Regions from separate parts of the Homo sapiens genome. Here region 1 is reported to be linked to region 2. The links are microRNA targets in miRTarBase. Many come from high-throughput screens and were not tested one by one. Region 2 holds a microRNA gene; the other region holds the end of a gene's coding sequence.

Evidence for each region. The annotated mature microRNA hsa-miR-504-5p reads AGACCCUGGUCUGCACUCUAUC and lies in region 2 at 938-959, opposite strand. An mRNA with a match to its seed (bases 2 to 7 or 8) in the 3' UTR can be bound and repressed. Matches are read on the target gene's strand: a 7mer-m8 pairs with bases 2 to 8, a 7mer-A1 pairs with bases 2 to 7 and ends in A, and an 8mer does both.
Region 1: the mRNA of RABGAP1 is a reported target of hsa-miR-504-5p. The part of its 3' UTR that is shown has no 7-base or 8-base seed match.

The regions. Positions count from the first base shown.
Region 1 is chr9:123,102,636-123,105,804 of GRCh38, forward strand. It overlaps RABGAP1 (RAB GTPase activating protein 1), which reads left to right. Exons shown (of 26, transcript NM_012197.4): 26 at 456-2,231. The coding sequence ends at 578. Among named protein-coding and RNA genes, the nearest start is that of MIR600, 7.4 kb to the right of the region's middle. RefSeq lists a silencer at 1-229.
Region 2 is chrX:138,666,823-138,669,991 of GRCh38, forward strand. MIR504 (microRNA 504) reads right to left here and starts at 971; the gene lies at 889-971. All of the region lies in intron 3 of FGF13 (fibroblast growth factor 13), which reads right to left.

The sequences.
Region 1 (3,169 bases), not on the chromosome of region 2:
GGAGGAGAGTGGCTGCCCAGGAAGGACCCTCAGGAGTTCTTTCCTTGCAGTAGGGGATGGAGGTGGTGCTAAGGCTGGAAGAGAGTGTGTGGATCCAGATTGCGAAGCATTTCAAATGCCATGCTAGGGAGTTTAAAGATTTTTGCCAAAATGAAATGATGTCACCAGAAATAGAGCATTACCTGTCTGCCTGGTGTGCATTAGGTGGACAGAAGAGGGAGACATAGCAAGTAGAAGACTGTTTTAATAAATAGACCAGGCAAGAAATTAGATCTTAACTAAAAGCTCCCAAATCTTTAGGCATTTCAGGCATTTCTATGCCAGTTGGAGACTGGGGGAATTCCCCGAGGCCTCTCCAGAGTAAATAGACTGCATTCTTGTCTTGGTTCTCCTCTGGGGAGCCAGTGTCATTGACACCAAGCCCAGCATCCTCATGCACACTGTTCCTCTTGCAGGACTTGGAACACCATTTAGGGCTTGCCCTCAATGAGGTGCAGGCAGCCAAGAAGACGTGGTTTAACCGAACACTGAGCTCCATAAAGACAGCAACCGGGGTTCAAGGGAAAGAGACTTGCTGAGAGCAGCTGCCGCCTCCCGACACCTTCAGAAAACACGACACCTTTTGTTGCCTTCTTTGGCCAGATGTGTGATTCTGTGACTTGTCCCAGGACCAGAATGTACCTAAGTCAGATCCATAGACGCATGTTGGTAGGTCACTGGACCAGAGCTTGTGAAGCAGGCAACCTCTGGGGTAAGACTACTGATACTAACAGGCCTGCTAGCTCAGCCGACGCTCTGGACACTCTAGAAATCACTCCTCAGTGTGACCTCCCAGGCCTCTTCCCCGTGTACGTCAACACCTCACCCAGCCTAAAGGCTGAGTTTACATGATCAGAGTTAGGGGATCCTTCAGTCTGTTGATTTTTTTTCTAAACCTTTTTTTTTTAATATACATATATATATATATATATATATATATATATATATATATATATATATATAGTGGGGGTGGGGCAAGGGATCAGAAATTCAAATAATTCTTTTCTGCTTCAATGCCAGCAGAAGGTCCCCCAGGTAGACATGGAGAAGCACTTTGTTTTAAATAGGAGGGTTTCATAGTTGCATCTGAAGCCACCTGGTTCTGTTAAACTGTATGGTGCAGGTTTTGGGTTTGGCATTATTCATGTTTCTGATCAATTCTATGCAACTCTCATAGTTCCTGTTACTTTTTAGCATTAGCTGCCAAATGACTTCAAAAGGCTGGGGTGGGTGACTTGACTGTGAGACTGGATTATAACATGGACAAATCTTATTTTGCTTAATGTGTTTGTGTGTGTGTGTGTGTGTGTGTGTGTGTGTGTATGTATATATATATATAAATATCTTTCCCAATATGCCCCGTTGACAGTGTTTAAATTCCAGACTAGGACTGCTGATCTGCACAATTTAATTATGTGGTTATTCGAGCACTTAATTTCACTCAAGGTTCATTGGGCTCTGCTCTCCTCCCTGCCATTACGGGAGCTGTGGACAGAGCTCCCTCACTTCAAGATTCCTAGTGTTTTTGCACAACAGGTTGTCCAAGTGAGAAAGACTGAGTTGCGTGTCTGTAAATGTCTGCGCAGGGTGCACATGCTGCGAGGTCTCCATCCTCCGGGCCTGTCCCTCCCAGATGGGCTGGGCCTTTGGGCCCTCCTCAGAGTATGCCTGGGTACAAACCTCACTGTTCAGATGGGCTGTAAGTTCTCACTTCAAAGCTATGGAATGGATTTTAGCACCTTTAAAAAAAAAAAAAACTTTGACTTTTAATTTATATAGTGATATGCTGACAGGCTGACACGCAGATGGTTTTGTCCTCTTTTCTGCGTTCAGTGTTGAGGCGGCTGCTTACAAGAGGCACTGGTTTTGTATATAAAGACACTCGGGTTGTTTTGTAGCTCTTTTTCTTATTGGCTGTACTAACGCTTGCTGAGGTTATCTGTAATAAGGGAGGTAACAAGTGGCAACCCCCTCCCCACCAACCATCCCCTTTGCTGCTTTCTGTGTCTTTCTTGTTCAGTTACCAAAATAGCTGTAAGCCTATCTAATGCTAGGTGTGTGGACATTGTGCTAAGGTAGTTTCAGTGTGTCAACTTTATGAATTGAAATATAAACCAGTAAAATTGTATTACTGTTTCTTTTGTTGGTTTTATTTTAACAGCATATTGATTAAATATTTTGGTACAAACAAACAGCATTGCTTTGTAAAAACCAGTTTTGTCATCACCTACTCCTGTCGCCTCCCCTTCTTCCCTCATCCCCTGCGCACAGAAGCAGTCAGAGAAGACCACTGTGTGTGCTGTAAGAGAGGCATGTGTGAGCGCGAGGCAGCCCCTCACCCACCTGTTGAGACGTATGGAGTGGTAGGGTGTGGCAGGCCACATGGGGCAAGATGACGACGTTGATGCCTCTGTGTTTGTTTATGATGAACATTGCCCCTCTGAGAAATAACATGCTGTAGTAGCAGGGATGAGGGACACTTGGTGTTTTTGAGGCTTAAGGAAGCCTTACAGGAGGTAAGGGTCAAATTAGACCTTCAAAGGCAAAAGCATCTCACCAGGCAGAGATGGAAGAGGGAATTCCAGGGCCAAAGTGTGCATGTGCAGGGGAAACAGCTGAAGAGTAGAAAGGCAGGCTGAGCACCTGGGGGCCGGCTGTGGTCTGCTAAAAGCTTTAAAAGCAGTGACATGGAGTTGTCATCATCTTTTCAGAGCCTCTTTCTTCCTATCGCCTGTCCTCCACATCCCTGCACCATACAGATGAGGCTCCCAGGCCTTCTGCTGCCCCTCTTCACCACCTCAACCCCCTTCTCCATAGCAGGAAGAAGAACGAAGCTTCCCTAATCTTACGGTTCCCCCTTCCCGCTTGACCTGCCCTCTAGGACCCCACCTATGCCTAGCCTTTAAATGGATGCAGGCTGAACAGACCATAGCTTCATGCCTGCAAGAAGGATGACTGGATGGATGGCTGGATGGACAGACAGACAGATAAATGTAGATTAGATAGATAAAGTAGATGATAGATAAAATAATAGATAGATGAGATAGATAAGATGGATAGATAGATGATAGATCGATAGATATAGATAGATAGATAGATAGATAGATAGATAGATAGGGATAGAGATACA
Region 2 (3,169 bases):
CCTGATCTAGACATAAAGGTTGTACACATTTAGGTGTGAACAGTTCCTTGTTCCCAAAAACAAAAACAAATAAACAGAGAACAAACTAAATAGATTATTACTATTCAACCACTAAAATGTAGATTAAGAATAATATTTTAATATATAGAGGAATAGTCATAATAACGAGTAAACAGCAGGTTTGAAACATGGTATGCATAGTTATTCCAAATGTACATATATATCTTTATGTAATATATATGTATTTTATATATGTACACATATATGTGTATACATATATTATGCTATATCATATATTAGGTTATATATGTATATTATGTATTTATACATATATATAAAATACGTATATATTACATGAAGATATATATGTATATTTGGAATATATGTATACATATATAATATACATATATATTACATAAAAATGTATATTTGGAATATATGTATATATATAGAGAGAGAGAGAGAAAGAAAGACAAAGACAGAGAGAGAGAGATATACACGAATTCCAGCTAGCCACTACAAGGATCTATAACAGAACATTAATATTGGTTTTCTCTTGGTTGGGGGACTTTGTAGATACCTTTTTGTATTTTCCAATTTTTCTGCAAAGAACATATATTACATTGGTAAACAGAAAATAAACATACACAAAATAACTGTTCAGAAAGAAAAGCTCAATTAGAAACTTAACATTCTTACTGAACCTGACTATAAGAGAGTTACAAAGACATTTCAATAACTACTAAAGAGACTTATCAGGATTGAGTTTCTTCATAGAAGAGGATCAGTTGAATTTTCATGAAGCATTGGGGTGGTGGGGTAAGATTCCAGGTGAAATGGCTTTGAAGTTGAGTTCCAGTCAACATTTGCCATACGGTGGTAGTCTGTGCCCTCTGTATGGGAAACCCTGCCCTGCACTCCCTTCAGTAAGAATACAGATAGAGTGCAGACCAGGGTCTCCCAACAGCAGCTGATTCAACATTCCACTCCATATTTTCTGTCTTCTGTTGTGATTCTATGTGGGAAATGGATGGCTCGTTGAGTTACCTTTTCCTTTTGAGTTATTCCACTTCAGTGATGGACACTAACTGATGAGGGTAGACTGTGGCCTTGTGGATCAGTTCGTCCCCTGTAAACAGCTGTACTTTTGGACTTTACATAAATTTTTCTTAGTCTTAAAAAAAATGACAATTTAATATATGATAGGATTTCCATAGTCTTCCAAGAATTATAGGCTTATATATATTGGCCTGAAGGCAGCATGTTATTATATGGACTGTAACGGCAAATAATATGAAGCATTTGTTAACTTAATGAACTTAACACTGTAAAATGCTGTGCATGTATTATCATTCCATTTAATCCTCTTAAGAACCCTATGAGGTCTATACTACTATTACCTCCATTTTATAGATGAGGAAACTAAAGGACAGATGGATTAATAATTCCTTTGCCCCAAATCATAAACCTTATAAGCATTTGAATTGTGTTTCAAATCCATGTAATGTCAGAGCCCTCCCTCTTAACCACTACAGGCATTTTAAAGGCAGATATTATGTATCATTTATTATGATGCTGCAGCCTGCTTAAAATCAGGATAGCAAAAGGTTGTTGCCACAGGGTAAAAAGGGGAAGAAGTGGGGGAGGGTAGTGTGTTCTATTTCAGAGATAGAGACAATGACTCCATTGTTGGTTATTTTGAGTTTAAAGAGCCATTAGTGATAGGTTAATGTGCAGCAGCCATTTGTATATATAAGCCTGGCTCTCAAGATGAAAGGTGTCTGCATATGGATGGTAACTGAAACCACAAGAATACATTTAATAATCTAGAGAACACAAGCAGAATACAAGACAACTACTGAGGCTGGAAACTGGGGGTGGGGAGGACATCAAACATTTCAGAAAAGACGAGGGAAGTGTAAAAATTAAAAGAAAAATAGTGATGGTGTAGAACAGAGAAAAAGCAGTGTTGTGAAAGCCCACAGAAGAGATGGTTTCAATGAAAAAGTTGACCAACCTGGTCAAGTGCTGTAGAAAGGAGAAATAAGGTAAGGACTGAAGGGAGAAATGGATTTTAGTTGGCAGTCACTAGCGACATTAGCAGGAGGAGTTCATGGATGGCAATGTGGGCAGAAGATAGAATGCGGAGGGCTGAATAATTAAGAATTAGATGAGAAAATAAAAGCAAAGGTGAAGCTGAATAATTTAAAAATAGGCGAGAAAATGAAGAAAGCTCTTGCCTATCAAAGGAAAGAGACAGTCTGAAAGAGAAACTTAGGAGGGACTTTTTAGGATGAGAAGTCTTGAAATGATCTGTATGCCAGTGGAAAAAAGGTAGTAGTCCAGGAGGTAGTGAAGGTACAGGACAAAGGATAATTGATGTATCTAGGTCCCCATGGCTTTGGGAAGAGATAAAATAAATGGAAAAAGAAGAGGAACTTTTCTTTTGGGAGATGGTTGTTGAACTGAATGGCTTTTAAGGCCCTTCACAATACTGATGCAATTTCATAAAGGATGGAAAAATCCTACAGTTATTGTAGTGAGTTCTGGAAAACTAGACAGAGGATGTACTCCAGTGGTATCAGGCTGGCAATACATGGCACAAAACAATGTTACAAGGCTCCAGTGTACTTCAGACAACTACCAATAACCCCTGTGCCTGATGCTAAACCCAGACTTTTTTCAACAAATAACTGTCTCTTTTCCTTTCTTGTCTGGCTTCTTTTAAATGCTAAGTTTGAAATGTGATACCTTTGCATGAAAGCGGCATGCAGTCTACATGTCAGTTGATAAGAGTATACTGGAAATATTTCACTTTAATAATGTGGATAGGATCCTTCTGCCTCTCCCCTTCTCCCCTGGCCCCCACACCTTGTTCTTAATATCTCTGGATTCCATCTCTTCCCTAAAATACCTTTAGGATTTCTCCTATGTGCATAACAAATAACAGCATTATTTACATTTTAGCACTTCTTCTAAGACGTTTCCAGGTGCTAGATACAAGCTGTAGAAGAGCTTGCATTTTTTCCTTTAGATCTAAATAGTCTGAATCTCAGTATTGCTCATGGGAAACTGTTTCAAAGGCTGAAGTGTCAGAAGCAGAAAGGAAAGAAATGAGTGGGTGGGAAGTTCTACATGCAAACCTGTCACACTCTTCTTTCATTTTCAG